2 linked regions of the Homo sapiens genome follow. The protein of the gene in region 1 purifies or fractionates together with the protein of each later gene. This does not show direct contact. Each region holds a gene or a part of one and is shown on either strand. Other genes may lie near its edges. The genes, in order: SEPTIN6 and RAP1GDS1.

Region 1 (12,097 bases):
AGCAGCTCAGTCCCTCAGCCTGTCCCGGAAAACGGTGGTGGCGCGCGGGGGGCGGGGGGCGGCAGGGGGGCAGGCAAAACCTGCGGGCCGGCGGCTGAACTTGCATTGCCCAAGAGCCGCAGTGAGCGCCACCGCCTCCCTCGCTGCAGCTGCGGCCCCACGGCTGGGGCGTTGCCGAATGAATGGCCGTAGGAGCCGCCGAGCCCTCCGGGTCCCTGGCACCCTGGCCTTGCCGCGCCCCTGCGCACGGCTGCCCGTTGTGACCCGGGACCGCACAGGCAAAGAGGCGCGGGGCTGGGGTTAGCCTGGGGCAGAAGGCGGTGAGTGGCGAGGGGGGCGGGGAGGTGACTGGCTGGGATAGGGTTTCTCTATATGCATTACATATGTGACTGCGTCTGTGTGTGTATCGGTGTGCGCGTATGTGTGCACGCGCGCGCGCTCGTGTCTTCCCGGGCGGGCGGCGGCGGCGCCGGGGTTCTGTCTGTGACCCAAAGAAGTCCGCGTGTTTCTCTGAGTGTGCTCACCTCTGTGGTGTGTGTCCGAACGCCTCTCTGTCTGCTTGTGCTGTGTGCCTCTGGGTCTCATTTGTGCGTCAGTGTGGGGTGCAGTTGGCTGGCCTGTAGGTGGCTGGCTGCGTATTTTGGCATGTTTTGGAGCGGGCCTCTGAGGATCTGTCTCGGGTGCATGTTCAGTGTAACTGGGCTTGTGTGCCAAAACCTGTGGAGCTGGCTTCTTTCTATGGAGACTCAGGAAAATAAGTGTGAGACTCGCAAAAGCGGTGCCGTCTCTTTTTTTGTTGGCGACCGACTCTGGGAAAAAAAAAATCTTCATTTAAAGAACTGAAGTTTTCCAGCCTGGGATGTGCAGAGAAACCATGTTGAAGTGACCTGAGGCTCCATGTTTGTTTTTTAAACCAGAAGTTTGGTTGCAAAGGGCGATGAATTCCATTTGGGGGGGACACCCTAGCTATTCTATTCATCCATGGGTATCTGGGACTTTAATAAGCCCACCAGCACCCCGAGGTGAGGAAGGAGTGGGAGACAGAGGTAGGTCAAATCCCATGACACCACATACTACTTGACGAAAATCTCTGAACCACATAAAAATGTTTTTCAACCTTGTAGCTTACTTATTTAGGAAAATAGTTCATGCAATGCAACTACAGTACAAAAAAAAAGCCTCTAGGTATTTGGTGTAATTGAAATTGATTTTACAAAATCTGAAGCCAGAATCTGATAATATTTTCTCTACAGAATATGTATTAATGTCTCTTTTGTCCCTGTTTGGAAGGGCAGGATCATTTCTTCGGAACCTCCTCCACCCCCTGCACACCCTAGCACAGAGCACTTTATGCAGTCATGTTGTGGAAGGACCAGGAGTAGACAGGGGACATTCTCTGTGATGATGCAATTTGAGAGAATTTTCTTCCCCCAAGATTGGCACTCTCGTTGTTTATTGCTTTAGTGTTTTGAGGGCTCCCTCTTTTCTGCTGTGGCTTTTCTGCTCCTGGTTACCTGCATTTCAGAGATGGTATAGCTGAAGTAGAGGAATTAATCTCTGGGATTACACTAGCTCCATCCAAAAATGACGCTAATGATTTTTCATGTCAGCTAATGAATTTGCATCGACCTGTCCTCCATACTCTCACCAGTTTCTCTTGCCTGGATTAGGATTGCAGGGCAGATGTTGCAATGGGGAACATTCCAGAAGGTTGTGTGTGTTTCACCTCAGGCACAACTCAGGCAACCTAGAGATGCCCTTTGTTCTGCAGATGGGGGTGAGGGGGTGCTTTAGGGCCACTTGGTTTGCTTTGCATGGCTCCAGTTTGCTCTGGCTGGCCTTGCCATACTGTATGATGAAGAACATAATTGTACGCCAGATTCTGAAGCTGAAAGAGCAGCCTAAGCACTCGAGACCTTGTTATCGTGATAAATGGGTTTCTGGGAAAACTGACGTCACTCTCCATGCCCCCCTCCCCCAGCCAGTGAAGCTCCTGTTTATGTGTCATTTGTCTCTCTGTTCTCCTTTGTGTCTGCAATAAGTTGTAATTCACCAGGGAAGACGGAGTTAACTCAGGAGACCTTGGACATCTGGTTGCTGCTTGTTTCCTCCAAGGAACATGTATTCAGGGTTTGGGAACAGAAGACTAGAGAATAAACCTAAGTGTGGCTAGCTTAGGAATTCTTTTTTTTTTTTTTTTTTTTTTTTGAGACGGAGTCTTGCTCTGTTGCCCAGGCTGGAGTGCAAGTGGCATGATCTCGGCTCACTGCAACCTCAGCCTCCCAGGTTCAAGCGATTCTCCTGCCTCAGCCTCCCGAGTAGCTGGGATTACAGGCACCCGCCACCACACCTGGCTAGTTTTGATATTTTTAGTAGAGGGGGGTTTTCACCATGTTGGCCAGGCTGGTCTCGAACTCCTGACCTTGTGATCCACCCGCCTCAGCCTCCCAAAGTGTTGGGATTACAGGCATGAGCCACTGCTCCCGGCCAGGAATTCTTTTTAATGAGCTCTGAGACGTGGTACCATGCGAGTAAGTGCCCTAGTGTGTGTGTGTGTGTGTGTGTGTGTGTGTGTGTGTGTGTATGTGTATGTATGTGGGGGGTGTGTTCTTTCTAGAATCAGTTGAGAGTCACTGTGGGTAAACATCCTTAGTGACTAAAACAAGCCTTCAAGTTGTTGGGTAGGGCTTACATTGCACGCAGCCAACTTGGAAGTTCAATTCTGGTGCACATAATACAAGTCCGTCCCATTTGAATGAACACCACAAACGGTTTGGTGTGACAACACCATTTCTCCACTGTGTCCATATTTACTTGATTGACTGATATGTGGCCAGCACTATGGTTAGCCCTTGTCAACTGGACAAAAAAAGGTAGCAGGCTTTAAAAAACGTTCGTGATCGGACTGGGCTTGGTGGCTCATGCCTGTAATCCCAGCACTTTGGGAGGCTGAGGTGGGCAGATCATGAGGTCAGGAGTTCGAGACCAGCCTGGCCAACATGGTGAAACCCCGTATCTACTAAAAATACAAAAATTAGCCAGGCGTGGTGGTGCGTGCCTGTAATCACAGCTACTCAGGAGGCTGAGGCAGAAGAATCGCTTGAACCCTGGAGGCAGAGGTTGCAGTGAGCCAAGATTGCACCACTGCACTCCAGCCTGGGCAACAGAGCGAGACTCCATCTCAAAAAAGAAAAAAAAGAGGCCGAGGTGGGTGGATCACAAAGTCAGGAGATCGAGACCAGCCTGGCTAACATGGTTAAATCTCATCTCTACTAAAAATACAAAAAATTAGCCAGGCGTGGTGGCGGGCACCTGTAGTCCCAGCTACTGTGGAGGCTGAGGGTGTGAACCTGGGAGGCGGCACTTGCAGTGAGCCGAGATCGTGCCACTACACTCCAGCCTGGGCGACAGAGTGGGAATCCGTCTCAAAAAACAAAACAAAAAAAAGTTCGTGGCTTTTAAGCTTATAGTCTAGTTGGAATGACAAATTGTGGACACTGTGAAATAATTAAAGAACTATAGAAGATCCTTGTGATGCCCCACCTCACCCCCTGACTATGAGGTGGCTTGGGCTGCTATTAATATATATTTCGAGAGGTTCCATGACTTGTCCAAGGTAACCAAGGCACAGGGCAAGCCCCAAAAGCTGCATGTGCTGGCTCTTTTAATGAGCTGTTCCTTTCAATGTTGCATTCTGGGATCCAGACCGTAAATGCCGGCCCATACCAAGAGCATCTGGATGATTCTGGCTTGAACTAGTCCCACAATGTGAACAATGAAGCTTTCTCTAGTGGCAATCTAGGTAGTGGTCATTCTCCCAAGTGAACTTTCAGGGGCTAACTTTGCCCTACAAAGTTAGCTGGGGTTGGTCTGGGTCAACTGTCTCAGAGCAACTGTCTTCAGGTGGGGAAAAGATTGCTGCTGCACTCTGGTTTTGCTATCATCACGTGGCAGTTACCCTTTGATTCCCTTTGAGGTCTCTGCTTCAGGCGTTCCTACCACCACCCACTAAAGGTAGTATCGTACCTCAAACATAGAAAACAAAACCCTATTACCTAGCTCTATTGGTGATACAACACGGAAGAAAGTTTACATGGCCCTAAATATTTAAAAATGTTGATTCTAAATTTGAGGGGTTTTTGGACAGTCATTACATTATTTTCTAACTTCTCTGTGTGTTTGGGATGTTTCTTTTCTTCTTTTCCTTTTTTTTTTTTTTTTCCCCGAGATGGAGTCTTGTTCTGTCGCCCAGGCTGGAATGCAGTGGCGCGATCTCAGCTCACTGCAACCTCCGCCTCCTGGGTTCAAGAAATTATCCTGCCTCAGCCTCCCGAGTAGCTGGGATTACAGGTGTGCACCACCGTGCCCAGCTAATTTTTGTATTTTTAGTAGAAACAGGGTTTCACCATGTTGGCCAGGCTGGTCTCGAACTCCTGACCTCGTGATCTGCCCACCTTGGCCTCTCAAAGTCCTGGGATTACAGGTGTGAGCCACAGCGCCCGGCCTGGGATTTTTCAAAATAAAAAGCGGGCAGAATGACAATGTCCCCCAAATGCACATGGTCCCTTCTTTCAAGGAACTGGTGGAGGCAGACACAAATCACTATCTAATTATCTTTGTGATAAGTGCTACACAGGAGAGTGACTGCCTGCCATGAGATTTCATTACTAAGGGAACCTAACTCAGCAATGAATGGAGGCAGAGGGTGACAGGAAGGGCTTCCTGAGGGCTTCAAATAGGAAATGGGTAGGTGTGAAGGTGGGTGAGATCTCACATCTGCTACTGGGTTGGGAACATTTCATTTGCCAATTCACCCACTTTTATTTTCATTCATTCCTTCAGCACATATTCACTGGGCACTGATCGGCCAGGCCCCGTGCCAGGTGCTGAGGATATAGTGGTGGCCAAGGCACGCAGGAACTCTGCCCTCTCACAGCTTCCAGATGAAAGGCAGGAATAAGCCCTGTTTCCTTTTTACATCCTAAATCCTGGAAATGTGAGTGTTAGCGGTGTTCTTAATACAAAACTACATTATAGCAGAGTGATTTGTCTGTATCATCTAATGAGATTTTGATCTGCAGTCATGTGCATAGCATTTACTTTGTGGAGTCTCTGCTGTAAATTTTCTATTAATTGCTGGCTTTGTTACCAAGCATGGCCACTGCCTTTGTGTGCTATAAGGGAGCAAACCTATTGCATTAGCCTGAGCAAAGCCAATTAGGAAGATAAGTCCTCTGGAAAAAGGTATTCCCAAACTAAGTAGGGCTGATTTCTGGACTTGCCTGGGTTTTTGGATGATCAGAGCCATGGTTTAATATTAGCATGAACAATTGAGAAGGGCTTTTAGTTGCATGTACATTAAAACTACATTCAAGACAGATGAGGCCAGGTGCGGTGGCTCACGTCTGTAATCCCAGCACTTTGGGAGGCCGAGGCGGGCAGATCATGAGGTTAGGAGATCCAGACCATTCTGGCTAACACGGTGAAACCCCATCTCTACTAAAAATTAAAAAATTAGCCGGGCGTGGTGGCGGGTGCCTGTAGTCCCAGCTACTCTGGAGGCTGAAACAGGAGAATGGCGTGAACCCGGGAGGCGGAGCTTGCAGTGAGCCGAGATTGTGCCACTGCACTCCATCCTGGGCGACAGAGTGAGACTCCGTCTCAAAAAAGAAAAAAAAAAAAAGACAGATGAAAGAAAGAAAGAAGGAAAGAAGGAAAAAGAAGGAAAGAAGGAAAGCCATGGATATATATAACATGTTTCTTTCAACGATCTCGAAATGCTTCCATCTGTATGATTTCATTTTCCCCAATGGCTTCCTGGACAAGTATTACTGTTCCCTTTATTTAATGGGTGTAGGGAGACCAAGTTACTTAGTCCGAAGTGCTATTGCTGGTCAGTGGGTGATACGATTAAACACCCACCAGATGACACAGATTCCTTGTTTAAAAACACTTGTCTTTTCATGATGTTTCTAAGACATCAAAATCCTGCCATGACCTCTCTTCCCCCTCTTTTCACTACACTCCCTCAGCACTCCCATAGGGCCCAGGGAAGAGTATACTAGGGTGATTCGGAGACTCTCTGATATTAAAAAGATTCTCAGCTTAAATCCAATATAGCACAGTCACGGGTTGTGTGGGTTTTCTTTTTTATTTTTTCTTCTCCATATTGCTTTAAATAAAAATCTTGGAGCCACCAGCCATGTAATGATGGATTATTTTAAGTAACAACTGGAGTGGGGGGCGCAGAATAAATTAGAAACACAGACCCTTCCTCCTCAGTTTGGCAGGAGGAGGCTTCTGCTGCTGGGATTTGAAACCGTGGGTTTCTCTGCCGCCTGCACAGAGGAAGGAGGCCACATGCTCAGGAGGGTGAGAAATAATGTTATCCTCTTCTTCAGTGTCTTCTCATTAGAGGCAGCCATCTGCTGAATTATGCAGCGCGCTCTCAGCCGGCCCTTCCACTCACTTAAAGGTGACCAGGGAAAAGATCTGCAGGCCTTCTCAGCGAGAGGCCTCAGGGCTCAGGTTTCCCCTGCCATGGCCCTCTCTGACCCGGAATGAAGGCCCTGGGGTAACGGGGCAGAACTCTGTTTTCCTGGCCCTGATGAGGTGTGAGGTCGTGTTCGGTTTCCTTTCACATTGGAGGCCCCCAGCTCTGAACACTGGCGCTGAGGCAGGAACTGGGTTTTTTTCAGATCCCCATTAAACAAGACCAGATGGAGGCAGAGGCAAATTCAGGCTCCCCAGAGGGCAGTTGGGCATTCACCCAGAGGCCTGTGGGTAAACCTTTTCTTTTTTAGCAGATTGGAGGTAACAATAGCCAGAACACCTAGAAAACTCTCTTTCAATTGTCTGGCTTCCAGGGAATCTGGCTGGCTTTTGTGGGAAAGTTTCACTCACCCTGAGCAAGGGTCACCCCTGGCCTGAGGTGGGGATATTTGACCTAGACTTAGGCTTGTGTTAGTCTTGGGGTTCTTCAGCAGAACTGGGCAGCTGGCCAGGCTGAGACTTAGGCCGCAGTCAAAAGAGAGGGAAACAGGAGGAAAAAGTGGGGAAGTGAGTAGAGAGCAGGAACACACAATGAGTGCCTTCCACCGCATTGACTGCTTCAGTTGCCTTCTGTGGGCCAGAACCACCTTGGGGAGCTCACGGGTTTCCAGATTCGGTTCCTTGACCCTTCTGCCCCTGACCAGCATCAAGCCAGAAGCTCAATGTCCCGGAATTTTACCAGTCTAAAGAAACACATGTGCCACTTGAGTCAGCTTTTCCATTTGAGAGTGGCCGTTGGCTCGACAGGGGCCTGGATCCTAGCACTATTCTCTGTCACTAAATCAGTCTGTGACGTGAGCCAAGTCACTTCCTCTCTGTGAGTCTCTGTTTCCCCTTTTGTGAAACGAAAGGGCTGGATTAGGTGATCTTTAAGGGCGTTTCCAGCTCTAACATTGTATGGTGCTTATGTTTCCTTTTTCTCCAGCCTCATTTCTTTTAGGTCCTTGCCTGCGTCTGCTTCCGAATGAGGTGGCAGAATTGAACCCCACCCCTTCCCTGCTTTGACCCCTTGAGCTGGGTGGGGAGAGAGTCGTAGGGAAGGTCGATCTATGCTTTTAGCTCAGCAGGCTCTCGGTAAGTGGAACAGAAACAACCCTTCAGATATTGCCTGTCCATGTAGGTGTAGATAGCTATTGTCTTCCTATAAAGGTACATGACAGCTGAATGTTTGTCTATTGAATCCTGCTTTCAATGCAGTAGAAGAGCCGGCTACTTAATGGAATCCTGCTGTGAATCCTTTTATAGAATGAAAAGCCACTCTGGAATTTATCTTGTGTATTAAAATCAGTTTCATCTATTGGATTTGCCAAAAATGGGCCTCCTCCTCTGTCTGGTAAGGATAGTCTGTCTTGTGCTTCTTCAGCACAACTGCTCCCCAACTGAAGGGCATTTCTGAGGCCCCTTGGGGGTGCTGCCAGCTTTTGCAGGCCTTATTTCTCCTTAGAACAGCCCCCACATTTCTCTTTCCCAGGATAGGGCATTGCTACTACTCAGTTTCCTCTTAGCCTGGCTTAATTAGCATGAGGGACATTCTGATATTTGATGTGTTGGATGCATTTGAGAATTGTTTTTAAAACCTGTGGGAACTTGGCTGTGTGCGGGGGCTCACACCTGTAATCCCAGCACTTTAGGAGACTGAGGCGGGCGGATCACCTGAGGTTAGGAGTTCGAGACCAGCCTGGCCAATATGGCAAAACCCCGTCTCTTCTAAAAATACAAACATTAGCTGGATGTGGTGGTGGGCGCCTGTAATCCCAGCTACTCGGGAGGCTGAGGTAGGAGAATCACTTGAACCCTGGAGACGGAGGTTGCAATGAGCTGAGATCGTGCCACCGCACTCCAGCCTGAGAGAGACAGAGTGAGACTCCATCTCAGAAAAAAAAAAAAAAAAAAAAAACCTCTGGGAACTTATCAGTGCTTTTGTGGTTCTTATGACATAATACAGCGGCATCCTTGGCAGCATTGGAGGCAGCAGAGGAAGCTATCAGCTACCTGATTGTTTCATCAAGACTTTTTGCTACATGTTTCAGGATATATGATTTGACTTCTGGTTCACATGAATCATTATAATAAGAAATTATACTGTATGACAATAAGTTATATATATAATATGTAATAATAAGTTATAATAAGGGGGCTGGGCACAGTGGCTCACGCCTATATTCCCAGAACTTTGGGAGGCCGAGGCGAGTGGATCACCTGAAGTCAGGAGTTCTAGACCAGCCTGGCCAACATGGTGAAACCCCATCTCTACTAAACTAAAAATACAAAAATTAGCTGGGTGTGGTGGTACACACCTGTAATCCCAGCTACTCAGGAAGCTGAGGCAGGAGAATCGCTTGAAACCAGGAGGGAGAGGTTGCAGTGAGCTGAGATCGCGCCACTGCACTCCAGCCTGGTTGACAGAGTGAGACACTGTCTCAAAAAAAAAAAAAAAAAGAAGTTATAATAAGGAGACTAATAGGGTTTTATTGTATTTCTGGTAAAATAAATGTTTTATATACAATAAAACTGCCTGAAAGCTAAATGCTCTGATGACCCAAATTGTCAGGCACCTTTTTGGTTGTAGTTCAATATTTTTCTAAAATACCTGAGGCCACTTTCCTACCCAGGAAAGTATCATCATAGAATCTTTTTTAAAAAAGTAACATTTTCCCTGTTTATAAAAGTAAAATATGCCTATTGTAGAACATTTGGAAAACCCAGAAAAGCAACATCACCTACAACCTCTCTACCCAAAAGAAATCACTGACATTATTTTGGCATGTGTTCTTCTAATCTTTTAAAAAATGTGTATTTTCCCCCATCATTGGGATGACCCTGTGTATACAGGTTGGTTTTCCTGTTGTTGTTTGCCTTTGGTGAGCATTTCCTTTTGTCATTAAATATTCTTAGAAAACATTTTTCTCAGCTGCTTAATATTCCATCATGTATCACTGAACCGATGATTCATAGTCTTGGAGATTTGCACGGTCTTTCAGACATCAGTGTTCAGGGCTGAGAGTGGAAATGGAGAAAAGGGAGGTGTGAGAGCTTGGGCCCACCAGTAGGTGACTGAAGAGAGTCCGGTTTCAGTGTTTCTTTTCTTTCCTAGCATTTTTGTTGTTGTTGTTTGTTTGTTTGTTTTGAGACAGAGTCTCCCTCTGTTGCCCAGACTGGAGTGCAGTTGTGCGATCTCAGCTCATTGCAACCTCCGCCTCCTGCGTTCAAGCGATTCTCCTGCCTCAGCCTCCCAACTGGCTGGGACTACAGGCATGAGCCACCAAGCCTGGCTAATTTTTGTATTTTCAGTAGAGACGGGTTTTCCCAGTGTTGGCCAGGCTGGTTTCGAATTCCTGGCCCCAAGTAATCTGCCCGCCTTGGCCTCCCAAAGTGCTGGGATTACAGGCATGAGCCACCGTACCTGGCCGCTTTCCTAGTATTTGGATGGGAATGGCCAGAGGAGAAAGTTTAGGGACAGCCTAGTCATCAGCAATGAGTTTCAAACTTTTTGCTTTTATTCTTTAGAATGACAGCTACTAATTTAGCCACCCTGGTTTGAAACAGAGGCGGGAAATTCTCCATTGACACAGATGCACCCTCAGTTCCCAGAGGCCTCAAATACGGCTTGCTTACTATCACAGAGGTTGGAAGAGGGGCCAAGGGGAGTGGGGGACAGAGGTGGCCTACTCGGGTGCTTAAGGGACTCTTTATTTTCAGTAACAGCAATGAGAGAAAGATGCGCAGCTGGAACCACCATAACTTGTTCTTGATAATATGAACCTTACGAATATTCAATTAAAAAACGAAATTGGTGTGTCCTCAGGAGAGGAGGCAGAAGAGAAAGAGAGCAGTGTTTCTGCCTGTGATATGAAATGTGGTATAACGTATTTAAAAACCACAGGTGACTGCAGATGAGGAGAAAACAGGAAATGTAATTGGGGAGGGGAGTGGGGCGCTCTCCCAGTTCTCAGGAGCACTCTTTCATTTTGCCTTCCTTTTAGCTCCTCTCAGACTCTCTGCATCCTAATTACCCCTGCTGCAAAGCTGAGTGAGAACTCTTCTTTCTTATATTAAAAATGTTTTAAAATTACATGGGTAACATGCGAATACATTCGTGCTATAAAAGAGTCAAACAATAGGGAAGCATACCGACTACTCCCTTGACTGAGCCCCTATTTCCATCCCCCTCCCCTGAGGTAGCTACGATTGTGGGTTTGGTGGCTGTATTTTCAGTCTTCTTTCTATGCATCCACATACATTTACGTGCAAATACACATCTACAGGGCTTCTGGGGCATATATGGGCTCATATTGTGCTTATAGTTTACAACTTCTATTTTCTTTTTTTTTTCTTTCTTTTTTTTGAGACAGGGTCTCACTGTTGCCCAGGCTGGAGTGCAGTGGCACAATCTTGGCCCACTACATCCTCGACCTACCGGGCTCAAGCAATCCTCCCACATCAGCCTCCTGGGTAGCTGGGACTACAGGTGTGTGCTAACACACTTGGCTAATTTTTGTATTTTTTGTAGAGACGGGATTCTGCTGTGTTGCCCAGGTTGGTCTCAAACTCCTGGGCTCAAGCGAGCCACCTGCCTCGACCTCCCAAAATGCTGGGATTACAGTCATGTAATAACTTCCATTTTCTTCTATTTTATTACAGTCGCCCTATAACTTCTGTTTTCTGTTTTATAATATGTCTTGGAGATACTCACATCAGTACATACAGAACTACCCACATGCTTCTTAATGGATGTAGAATATTCCAGAATATGCGTGTACCATAATTTGGTTAAATATTTTCCTATTGTTGGACATTTAGGTTGGGTTTTTTTTTTCAGCATTATAAACTGTGCTGTAATAAATTTCCTTGTAATAGATCTTTGTACAGATTCTGAGAGGAGGTTGCAGGGTTATGAGAGAAGTGCAATTTAAAATGGTGACTTTGGCCATTCCAGCATCTCAGTTCAGGCCTTCAGTATGGTAATATGGCACCACCTGCTACTAAAGATGAAAACTTGAGATTTACTGTCAGACATGCTGGGCCAAGTTGCCGGTTCCATCTCCTCTCGTGCACATTGTAGTCAAGGAACATTCAATTAACTGCAATCAAAGTAATCAGGCCCTCAATTAATCAGGCCACCTTAAGGAGAAAGAGGAAAGAGATAAGATATCAGAGATTTAGTGAGAGAGGAGGGGAGAAACTTCCAGGGGCTGTGCTGGGGTCAGTGTACATTCAGTTCAATGTTGTGTCCTTCTGTCCTTCCTACCTTTGCGTATTTAACTCTGAACAATGCGGACTGATACTCATAATGATGACCTTGACATCTTATAAGATTCATCAAAGCAAGGGTGCATAGTGTTTGCCAGACAGGATTTCCTAAAGTAGGAACTATACAAATACATTTTTTTTTTTTTTTTGAGACAGAGTCTTACTCTGTCGCCCAGCCTGGAGTGCAGTGGCGTGATCTCGGCTCAATGCAACCTCTGCCTCCCGGGTTCAGGTGATTCTCCTAACTCAGCCTCCCGAGTGGCTGGGACTACAGGCATCTGCCACCGCGCCCAGC
Region 2 (12,097 bases), on another chromosome or scaffold:
CAAAATACTGGGATTACAGGCATGAGCCACCGTGCCTGGCCTGATGCCAATATATTTTAAAGTATGACTGATACAAGAATAGAAAAGCTGAGTAATCTTACCTTAAGAATTCTTCCAGAGAATAGGAAAAGGAAATATACTTACCAATTTATTTTAATGAGGCTAATGAAACCTTTATACCAAATCCCAACAAAGACAATACATGAATGAAAATTAAAGGCTAGTCTCACCATGAACATAGATCCAAAATTCCTCCTAAAATTTTAGCAAATTTACTCTAGTAATATATTAAAAAAATTAATCACACCAAATTGCATTTATTCTGAAAGTGTAACACAATTTAATATTTGAAATGCAACTAGTATAATTCATCACCTTAAAATATTTAAGGGGAGAAACCATGATCTTCTCAGATTTTAAAAAAAGCTTTTCATAAAATTAAGTGTTCATTCATTATTTTTAAAAACTTAGGAAAACAGGACTAGGAAGGTCTTCAATCTGAAAAAGATATCTATGAGAAGGCTGAAGAAAACATCACAATCAATGGTGAAATAAAAAAGCATTTGCTTTGAGATTGGGACAAGAAGGATCATCCCCGCTTCCATTTAACATTGTATTGTAAGAAGTATCCAGTGCATTAAAGAGAATAAAAGAAAAAAAATTAAGATAAAGCAATAAAACTCTCATTCATTTATGATGTGATTATGCATATTTAATTCAAAAGAATCTATAGATCAGTTTTATAGATCTTTTTTTAAATCAGAATTTTGTTAGGTTACTGCCAAAAAACAAACAAGAATTTCTATATACCAAAAAAGAAAAAACAGAAAATAAAATGTGAAAAATACGTTGGATAGCCCTTTTAGCTGGAACTGCCACCTTCCAGTAATTTAACAAAATAATGAACACAAAGGGAAAGAGAAGCATCTGATATGTATTCTGTAGGCCTTTTAGAAAATACGGAGTTGTTCCTTTAGCCACATACATTCAAATCTACAGGAAAGGTGATATTGTAGACATCAGAGGAATGCATCCTGTTCAAAAAGGGAATGCCCCACAAATTTTACCATGGAAAACCAAGAGTCTATGGTGTTACCCGGCATGGTACTAGTGTTGTTGTAAACAAACAAGGGCAAGATTGTTGCCAAAATAATTAATGTGTATAATGAGCATATTAAGCACTCAAGAGCCAAGATACCTCCCCGAAACACATGAAGGAAAGATAGGAAAAGAAAAAGAAGGGAGCCAAAGAGAAATGTACCTGAGTTCAACTGAAGCAACAGTCTGTTCCACCTAGAGAAGCGCACTTTGTGAGAACAAACGGAAGGGGCCTGAGCTGCTGGAACCTCTTCCCTATGAATTCATGGCATAATAGGTGTTTTCAAGATAAAAGGCTTCTAGACTATTAAAAAGTATATAAAAAATTAATTCCAGATAGATTGACCTAAATGTGAAAGTTAAAACTTCAGAGGGTTTATCTTAAAATGTAAGCTAGGAGAATATCATCATGGCCTTGAAATACTTTTCTTAGATCACAAAAAGCTCTAATCATAAAGGAAAAAATTGAGACATTGGTTACTTTAAAAGTAAAACTTCTGGCTAGCCTGGTGGCTCATGACTGCAATCCTAATGGCTTTGGGAGGGCAAGACGAGGATCACTTGAGACCAGGAGTTCGAGACCAGCCTGAGCAACATAGTGAGGCCTCATCTCTACCAAAAACAAATAAATAAAAGTTAAAACTCTTTTTTTAAAGACACCGTTAAGAGTGAAAAGCAAGACTGGATGAGAGAATATAATTATAACATATAACTGACAGAGGGCTTGTGTATACAGTGTATAAAAACTCTTAAAAATCATTAAGAAAAATGTGAAAAACATTTTAATAAGCACTTGACAAAAGATTTATATTAAGTCCAACAGACTTAATATAGATATGAAAATGTTCACTCTTAGGTAACACAAAATAAAACCACAATAAAATACCACTATACACCCACTGGAAAGTCTCATAAACCAACTGTTGATGAGGGTGTGGAACAGTGGGAGTGTAAATTGGTACAATTGGGAAGTAGTATCTATTGAAGTTGAAGCAATAGATCCAACAATTCTGCTCTTAGAAATATACCCAGAAGCTTGTGCACATGTATACCAGGAACTGTTACAGGAATGTTCAAAGCAGCATTATTTATAATGAAAAATTGGAAACAACCAAAATCCATTAACAGTAGAATGAATAAATCATAGGATATTAATATAATGGAAAAATATAGAGTTATGAAAAGGAATGAAGACAGCTGTAACCATTACTGTGGATGAATCTCATAATGTTGAAAGGAAAAAGCCAACACTGAAAAATACATATTGTATGATTCAATTTATATAAAGTTAAAAACAAAAAGTAAAACTAAACTGTAGTTTTTAGGAATGATTATTTACTTGGTAAAATGATGAAAGTATAGAAGTGATTACCATAATAACCAGGATGATTTGAGACAAATGAAGGAAGGGGTTTGTTATCAGAAACAGAAATGCAGAGATAGGCTTCCTGAGTTGTTGGCAATGAATTTCTTGATCTAGGTGATAGATACATGGTTATTTGCTTTCTAATAATATATTAAACTTAACTTGGATATTTTATGCACTTCTCTGCATTTGTGGTTTTCTTTCACTCTTTAAAAAAAGTTTTAAAATACCTATATATGATGCATACATGATACATACAAGTGTACATTCATACATATGTGTGTAAACAGTGGTGATAAAGATACTTGTCCTTGGACAGAATGGTTTTGGTAAATGTGCTGGGCTGTCTGCTTTGGCAGAATGTCTTGCTAATCCTAATTAAGGTAGTTTAAGCCTCCTATATATTTGTTTTCAGGTATTTGATTTCAGTCAAATTGTGAGAAGAGATTATCTGTAAACTTTAACATTGAGACATTTAGGCTGGGAGTGATGGCTTACGCCTGTAATTCCAGCACTTTCAGAGGCCAAGGCAGAAGGATTGCTTGAGCCAGGAGTTCAAGACCAACCTGGGCAACACAGCAAGACCCTGTCTCAAAAAAAAAAATTAATTAAAATTTTAAAACTACAATATTGACACATTTAAAATTTCTTAAATGTCTTAGGTCCTATTTCTTAGGGAGAAATTTGTTTTTTATCTCATTGGTGTTTTGGCAAAGTAAAAATTTTACTGTGACCTTCAGTCAATTTTAGGCCATAAAATAACCTATAACTTTCCTTGCAGTATTTCAAAATAACAATGTGTTGATATTTATTACTGTTTTCCCCTCTGCCTTCACATCTGTTTTATAATTGCACAATGGATAGGATGATACCATTGAAGGCTTGTTTTTGGACTAATTCTTTGCATGTATCATCCTTCATTTTCCCAGTACACGAAGGAGAGTGATTTCAGCATTAGAAGTTGGGATTTGTATAGTTCAAGGATTTTAGTATTTTTAAGGCTTTTTCATCATAGTTTTTAATTCTAGTCACCACACATCTCTAGCCCTAGCATTCTGTAACCAAGGAAACGCCCTACTTTTAGCATGGCACAGTACAAGTGTACCTTTTAAAGAAATATTCCAGGTTGAATACTCTGTGTATTCTGAGATAATATTCAAAAGAAGATCAGTGATCCTAGTGATTCAAAAAAGCCAAATTTTAACACATTAAAATTGCCTGAAAGTCTTAAGTATTTATTTTTAAAAGTCTTTATTTTTCCTAAATGATAAGCTGAAGCTGCCATTGCCATATATGGATGCATATACAGCTTAGGGAAACCAATGACTAAAATAAAATCCAACTGAAAAAATAAAGTTTAAATTTAAAAATTTCTGGCCAGGTACAGTGGCTCATGCCTGTAATCCTAGCACTTTGGGAGGCCAAGGCAGGAAGATTGCTTGAGGCCATGAGTTCAAGACCAGCCTAGGCAACATAGTGAGACCCTGTCTCTACAAAAAAAGTTTAAAAATTAGCCAGGCATGGTGGCATGCACTTTTAGTCCCAGCTACTCAGGAGGCTGAGATAGGAGGATTGCTTGAGCCCAGGAGTTCAAGGATGCAGTGAGCTATGATCATACCACTGCGCTCCAGCCTGGGCAACGGAGCGAGACACTGTCTCTTAAACAAAAAATCTGTGTTGCAAATGTATTTTTCAGGTGAGTTGACTAGCATTTATCTTAAGGAGTATCAACTACACTCAAAGCATTTAGATAGGCCAGTTTAGGTTAAGATACAAAGATGAGTAAGGTGTATCTATTGGGGGAACCAGCCCCCAATATTTCAATGTATGTTCTATTTTCCCTAAATGTCGGCCCATCTGAGAAATAGAGAAAGAGTACAAAAAGAGGAATTCTACAGCTGGGCCTCCAGGGGTGACATCACATATCGGTAGGTCCGTGATGTCCCCTGAGCCACAAAACCAGGAAGTTTTTATTAGGGATTTCAAAAGGGGAGGGAGTGTACAGGGAGTAGGTCACAAAGATCACGTGCTTTACAGGGCAATAAAGATCACAAGGCAAGGGCAAAGCAAAGATCACAAGGCAAAGGGCAAAATTAGAATTACTGATGAGGGTCTATGTTTGGCTGTGCACGTATTATCTTGATAAACACCTTAAACAACAGAAAACAGCGTTCGAGAGCAGAGAACCGGTCTGACCTCAAACTTACCAGGGCGGGATCTTTTCCGCACCCTAATAAGCCTGAGGGTACTGCAGGAGACCAGGGCGTATTTCAGTCCTTATCTCAACCGCATAAGACAGATACTCCCAGAGCGGCCATTTATAGACCTCCCCCCAGGAATGCAATTCCTTCCCCAGGGTATTACTATTTTTTTTTTTATTATACTTTAAGTTTTAGGGTACATGTACACATTGTGCAGGTTAGTTACATATGTATACATGTGCCATGCTGGTGCGCTGCACCCACTAACTCGTCATCTAGCATTAGGTATATCTCCCAATGCTATCCCTCCCCGCTCCCCCCACCCCACCACAGTCCCCAGAGTGTGATATTCCCCTTCCAGTGTCCATGTGATCTCATCGTTCAATTCCCACCTATGAGTGAGAATATGCAGTGTTTGGTTTTTGTTCTTGCGATAGTTTACTGAGAATGATGATTTCCAATTTCATCCATGTCACTACAAAGGACATGAACTCATCATTTTTTATGGCTGCATAGTATTCCATGGTGTATATGTGCCACATTTTCTTAATCCAGTCTATCATTGTTGGACATTTGGGTTGGTTCCAAGTCTTTGCTATTGTGAATAATGCCGCAATAAACATACATGTGCATGTGTCTTTATAGCAGCATGATTTATAGTCATTTGGGTATATACCCAGTAATGGGATGGCTGGGTCAAATGGAATTTCTAGTTCTAGATCCCTGAGGAATCGCCACACTGACTTCCACAATGGTGGAACTAGTTTACAGTCCCACCAACAGTGTAAAAGTGTTCCTATTTCTCCACATCCTCTCCAGCACCTGTTGTTTCCTGACTTTTTAATGATTGCCATTCTAACTGGTGTGAGATGGTATCTCATGTGGTTTTGATTTGCATTTCTCTGATGGCCAGTGATGATGAGCATTTTTTCATGTGTTTTTTGGCTGCATAAATGTCTTCTTTTGAGAAGTGTGTGTTCATGTCCTTCGCCCACTTTTTGATGGGGTTGTTTTTTTCTTGTAAATTTGTTTGAGTTCATTGTAGATTCTGGATATTAGCCCTTTGTCAGATGAGTAGGTTGCGAAAATTTTCTCCCATTTTGTAGGTTGCCTGTTCACTCTGATGGTAGTTTCTTTTGCTGTGCAGAAGCTCTTTAGTTTAATTAGATCCCATTTGTCAATTTTGTCTTTTGTTGCCATTGCTTTTGGTGTTTTGGACATGAAGTCCTTGCCCATGCCTATGTCCTGAATGGTAATGCCTAGGTTTTCTTCTAGGGTTTTTATGGTTTTAGGTCTAACATTTAAATCTTTAATCCATCTTGAATTGATTTTTGTCTAAGGTGTAAGGAAGGGATCCAGTTTCAGCTTTCTACATATGGCTAGCCAGTTTTCCCAGCACCATTTATTAAGTAGGGAATCCTTTCCCCATTGCTTGTTTTTCTCAGGTTTGTCAAAGATCAGATAGTTGTAGATATGCGGCATTATTTCTGAGGGCTCTGTTCTGTTCCAATGATCTATATCTCTGTTTTGGTACCAGTACCATGCTGTTTTGGTTACTGTAGCCTTGTAGTATAGTTTGAAGTCAGGTAGTGTGATGCCTCCAGCTTTGTTCTTTTGGCTTAGGATTGACTTGGCGATGCGGGCTCTTTCTTGGTTCCATATGAACTTTAAAGTAGTTTTTTCCAATTCTGTGAAGAAAGTCATTGGTAGCTTTATGGGGATGGCATTGAATCTGTAAATTACCTTGGGTAGTATGGCCATTTTCACGATATTGATTCTTCCTACCCATGAGCATGGAATGTTCTTCCATTTGTTTGTATCCTCTTTTATTTCCTTGAGCAGTGGTTTGTAGTTCTCCTTGAAGAGGTCCTTCACATCCCTTGTAAGTTGGATTCCTAGGTATTTTATTCTCTTTGAAGCAATTGTGAATAGGAATTCACTCATGATTTGGCTCTCTGTTTGTCTGTTGTTGGTGTATAAGAATGCTTGTGATTTTTGTACATTGATTTTGTATTCCCCAGGGTATTATTAATATTCCTTGCTGAGAAAAGAATTCAGTGATATCTCTCCTACTTGCACATCCGTTTATAGGCTCTCTGCAAGAAGAAGAATATGGCTCTATTCTGCCTGACCCTGCAGGCAGTCAGACCTTTGGTTGTCTTCTCTTGTTCTGTAAAATCACTGTTATTCTGTTTGTTTTCAAGGTGCACTGATTTCATATTGTTCAAACACCCATGTTTTACAATCAGACTTCATATTTTTCAAGCACACATGTTCTACAATCAGTTTGTACAATAGTGATCCTGAGGTGATGTACATTCTCAGCTTACAAAGATAACAGGATTAAGAGATTAAAGTAAAGACAGGCATAAGAAATTATGAGTATTATTTGGGAACTGATAAATGTCCATGAAATCTTCACAATTTATGTTTTTCTGCCACGGTGCCAGCCAGTCCCACCATTTGGGGTCCCTGACTTCCCACAACATATATCTGCTCAGGAGATAGATGGAGACAGATATGGAGGCAAATATAAGCTCTTCAGTGAAATAAGTGTTATAATGAAAGAATACTTAAAGATATTAGAAGTATAATAAAAAGTGTTGATGTGGGGGTGGAGTTTCCTATGAAGATCAGTTTTAAAAATGTAATTGGGATGTAAATTCTGTCTCTAAAATACCTTATGTTATGTTTAGCCATCAGAAAGGTTCAAGGTTATTTTTTTCTTTTAACTTTTATTATGAACATTTTGAAATGTATTCAGAAATAGCATTTAGTAAACCACCATGTACCCATCACTCAAGAAAGCTTTAAATCAATGAAAACCTGAAGCCCTTTTTAAAAACACGACTTTATTTATTTATTTATTTAATTTTTATAGACAGGGTCTCACTCTGTTGCCCAGACTGGAGTGCAGTGGCACAGTCATAGCTTACTGTAACCTTGAACTCCTGGCCTCAAGCAATCTTCCTGCCTTGGCCTCCCAAAGCACTGGGATTACAAGTGTAAGCCACCATGCCCAGCCCTATTTTATAGTATTTTATAGCTTGCCCTTTAAACATGAGCATGATATCTAGAGTAATAGTGGAGTGATACTAGTTGCTTTCAGAGCTGAGTATCAATTTGTTTAGATGCTGCAAGACATCCTGAAAAATTTGGCAATTTCAAATGGAAATATGAAATAAAGCTTTTTTGTATATTTAAATGAACTGTCAAGATAGTTTACTTTGAAGATTTGAGTTTCAAAAATGTATTATCTAAATCATGCATTTTCTTAGTTTTTTTTTTTTTTTTTTTTTTTTTTTTTTGAGACAGAGTCTCGCTCTATTGCCCAGGCTGGAGTGCAGTGTTGCAATCTTGGCTCACTGCAAGTTCCGCCTCCCAGGTTCACGCCATTCTCCTGCCTCAGCCTCCTGAGTAGCTGTGACTACAGGCGCCTGCCACTGCACCTGGCTAATTTTTTTTTGTATTTTTTAGTAGAGACGGGGTTTCATGGTGTTAGCCAGGATGGTCTCGATCTCCTGACCTTGTGATCCGCCCATCTCGGCCTCCCAAAGTGCTGGGATTACAGGCGTGAGCCACCGCACCTGGCCCTCTTAGTTTCTTATAATTCTTTATAATGGACTGCTTATACCAGAGCTCCTATTTTATCTCAAAGTTTGATTATTTTGTTCACGTTGTTCTTTAGATGCTATTAAACTACAGCTGGTTGAAGCAGGCCTAGTAGAGTGTCTACTAGAGATTGTTCAGCAAAAAGTGGATAGTGACAAAGAAGATGATATTACTGAGCTCAAAACTGGTTCAGATCTCATGGTTTTATTACTTCTTGGAGGTGAGTTGTAATTTATGCCAGCCAAAGAATGTGGTTGTCAGATGTTTTTAAAATTTATTGTCTCTTCTGTAAATACTACCCTAGACATTTTCTCATATTCCTATCTCACCTGCTATTGAGGTGATGATTTTGACATCTTAAACATGCCATTGATACAACCAGACATAATGAACCTGAAAAAGAAGTGTCTTCACTATCTTCCAGTATTTGAAGAGCTGTCACATAGAAGAGATAGCTTTGGCACCAAGGGACTAAAGAAAAGCTAGATGGCTCCCTGGGACTTGGACTAGAAAAAATGCTAGACTCTATTGTCTAGTATCTATTAAATGTTTATTATAAAAAGAATCATTACTTTTCCCATTATGAATGTAACAGTTTGTGAGGTGTGAGTTTCCAGTTGGATATTCACCTAAGAATGTGAATTTGTTACTCCTAGTTATTTTTCTCTTGCTTAACTATTCGTTTCATTTACCTCCAGATGAATCCATGCAGAAGTTATTTGAAGGAGGAAAAGGTAGTGTATTTCAAAGGGTACTCTCTTGGATCCCATCAAATAACCACCAGCTACAGCTTGCTGGAGCATTGGCAATTGCAAATTTTGCCAGAAATGGTAAGCATATTAGTTCCTCCTTTGTTAGTCAAATACTCTATATTTGTTTATTTTTGCTTTGCTACCACATATACTAAAACTGGAACAGTTTAGAAGTTGTGTAATATGTGTATATGCTGCTAACTTAATTTTTCAGAAATCTGAAATACTTAGTGACATTCCTAACAAATTACATATTTTATGCAATTCAACTAAATTCTAATAGTTTAAATATCATGAAGTGCTTCTTTTGAATACTTGGCACTTCAGAGCTTAGTAAGTTTGAATCCCATTCTAGTATACATCTGCTTTCTTTTGCCTAGTGATTTTATTTTGGATCTAATTATCTGAGTATTCATTCTAGGATTATTGTGCCTCAACTTATATACTTTTATGCCCATAAAACTTAAGTATGAATAATCCCCTGGCATCGTGTAGAATGTTTAATTTAGTTTAATAATGTTTCAGGGGGCGCCAGACTTCTATGTTTATGAAATCTGGCACTACCAAAAAACTCAAATACAGTCTAGAAACTCATTCTTACGTTCCTCATGAAATATACCGTGTCTAGGAAATACAGTTTATTTTTCTTTTTAGTTTAATCATCTTCCAGTACAAACTGTTGGTATATATTATATCATAATGGCTTACTTGCTCCATTTTTACTCCTTCTTTTTGGGAGTGACTTCCTAATTATGGAGGTAAGAGTGGCATAATATGGATAATTATTGAAACTAGATATGGGGTAAATAGTGGTTCATTATAATATTCTCTCCGCTTTGTAAGTGTTTGAAAAATAATTTAGGTATCAGCCATGATAGCAAAAGGTAGAGTACTATCACTGTAACATTGGGAGAACACAAGCATACATCACAATAAATGAAAAATATTGGACATTCTAACCATGTGTTTCTACTTCTGATATATTATCTGGCTCTAAACTAAAGATTTTTCTGGTAATTTTCTGATTTTAAAACTTTTATCTAGTTTAAGAATTTTTTTTAACACTTCTCACTCAGTAAACAGAAAAACCTATAAATCTGATGGGAGAAAGATTTGGAATTCATTTTATTGTATAGCTCCATTTTCCCTAATGTAGATAATAGCCAGACATCAGTATTATAAAGTATTTATAGATATTTTAAAGAGGAAGAAAAAGATGTGTGTTTTTTTTTTCAGATGCAAATTGTATTCATATGGTAGACAATGGGATTGTAGAAAAACTTATGGATTTACTGGACAGACATGTAGAAGATGGAAATGTAACAGTACAGCATGCAGCACTAAGTGCCCTCAGAAACCTGGCCATTCCAGGTAAGACTTAAGAATAGAAGGCAGCTGTGTACAAAATAAAATCCATCATTTGGGGAAGCTATTAACTGTATGTGATTTGTGAACCTGCTCTGATGAAGAAAATTTAAAAAAAAATAGTCTTCACATTGTTCACATTTTTTCATGCTAATAAATGGAGATCATATGTTAAATAAGTTTTGTGAGACTGTACAAGAATAATCTTTGCCTTCATTCAGATATCCTGTTACCTTTTGCGAACTGTTAGATTTTCATCATGTTTTATAGTTAAGCTTTTTTAAGTTTGAGATGGGGTCTCACTCTGTCAGCCAGGCTAGAGTGCAGTGACGCAGTCCTGGCTCACCACAGCCTCTACCTTCTGAGCTCAAGTTATCCTCCCACCTCAGCCTCCTGAGGAACAGGGACTACAGGCATGTGCCACCATGCCCAGCTGATTTTTTTTTTTTGTAGAAACAGGATCTCACTATGTTGCCTAGGCTGGTCTTGAACTCCTGGGCTCAAGCAGTCCACCCACCTTTGCCTCCTAAAGTGCTGGGATTACAGGTGAGAGCTACTGCACCAGGCCTTAGGCATCTTTAGTTGAGGTAGAATAATGACATCAATTAACAGAGTCCACTCAAGAATGACTTTCAGTTGTTGTTTTTCTATAAGCAGATGTACAATTTTTTTAAAATAGCCTTAATGTGCCTTTGGAAGTCATGAAATCACTGTATTATGGAAAATACAACAAAAGATAGTTAAAACTATTCTTTTATCCTACTTTCTAAAAATAAATTTCTGATTAGATGAAATAGTACAATTACATGATGATCCAATCCATTTGAATTCATTTGGTTTACATAGGATAGTAACATTTATTAATGTCTATAACATTTATATTAACACAGTTGGATCAAAAACGGAATTGTGCTTTTTGTTGTAAGAGGGTAACATTTTCAGATTTCCTTTACAAACTATGTAAGTAAGTGTTTTGGATTGGATCTAAAAAGCCATGATACTGTCATAAAAATTATTATATTGTCTGTTATCCGCTTATACACAAATAGGATACGGACACACACATAAACAACTGAATTCCATTCTTAAAATTGACAAAAAAGTGACAAGATTGTTTCTAAATGGAAAAATAAAACATGGATCTTAAAGATACTTAATAAACCTGTATTGAATTGAATGTTTATCAACAGGAATGCTAATACCATTTTAACCATAGTCTCTCTTTTTCTCCAGTTATAAATAAAGCAAAGATGTTATCAGCTGGGGTCACAGAGGCAGTTTTGAAATTTCTTAAATCTGAAATGCCTCCTGTTCAGTTCAAACTTCTGGGAACATTAAGAATGTTAATAGATGCACAAGGTAAAAGAAATGTTTTCCCCAACTTGCATTTTTCATATGATAGTCTTAATGTGCCTCTAGTTGAAAAAGGACTTGTTTTTAGCTTTTAGGATTATGTAATCATAAAAAATAGCAAATAAAAGATTTAAAAGTTGGTTTTGGAACTCCATTTGTTAATTTTTATGCTTGTTATAATTATTTATTTATACATATTATTTATTTATTTATTTATTTATTTATTTGTTTATTTATTTATTTTTGAGACAGAGTCTTGTTCTGTCACCCAGGCTGGAGTGCAGTGGTGCGACCTCAGCTCACCGCAACTTCCGCCTCCTGGGTTCAAGCAATTTTCCTGCCTCAGCCTC

The links.
Region 2: the proteins of SEPTIN6 (region 1) and RAP1GDS1 purify together in Homo sapiens (affinity purification with mass spectrometry; 3 studies listed by BioGRID and IntAct, with this or other methods). This does not show direct contact.

Annotation. Positions count from the first base shown.
Region 1 is NC_000023.11:119,680,835-119,692,931, reverse strand, and holds part of SEPTIN6 (septin-6), read left to right. Parts: intron 1-12,097. UniProt on the Homo sapiens protein: Filament-forming cytoskeletal GTPase. Required for normal organization of the actin cytoskeleton. Involved in cytokinesis. May play a role in HCV RNA replication.
Region 2 is NC_000004.12:98,408,392-98,420,488, forward strand, and holds part of RAP1GDS1 (rap1 GTPase-GDP dissociation stimulator 1), read left to right. Parts: intron 1-8,353; coding exon 8,354-8,497; intron 8,498-8,975; coding exon 8,976-9,107; intron 9,108-10,265; coding exon 10,266-10,400; intron 10,401-11,627; coding exon 11,628-11,753; intron 11,754-12,097. UniProt on the Homo sapiens protein: Acts as a GEF (guanine nucleotide exchange factor) for the Rho family of small GTP-binding proteins (G proteins) that stimulates the dissociation of GDP to enable subsequent binding of GTP.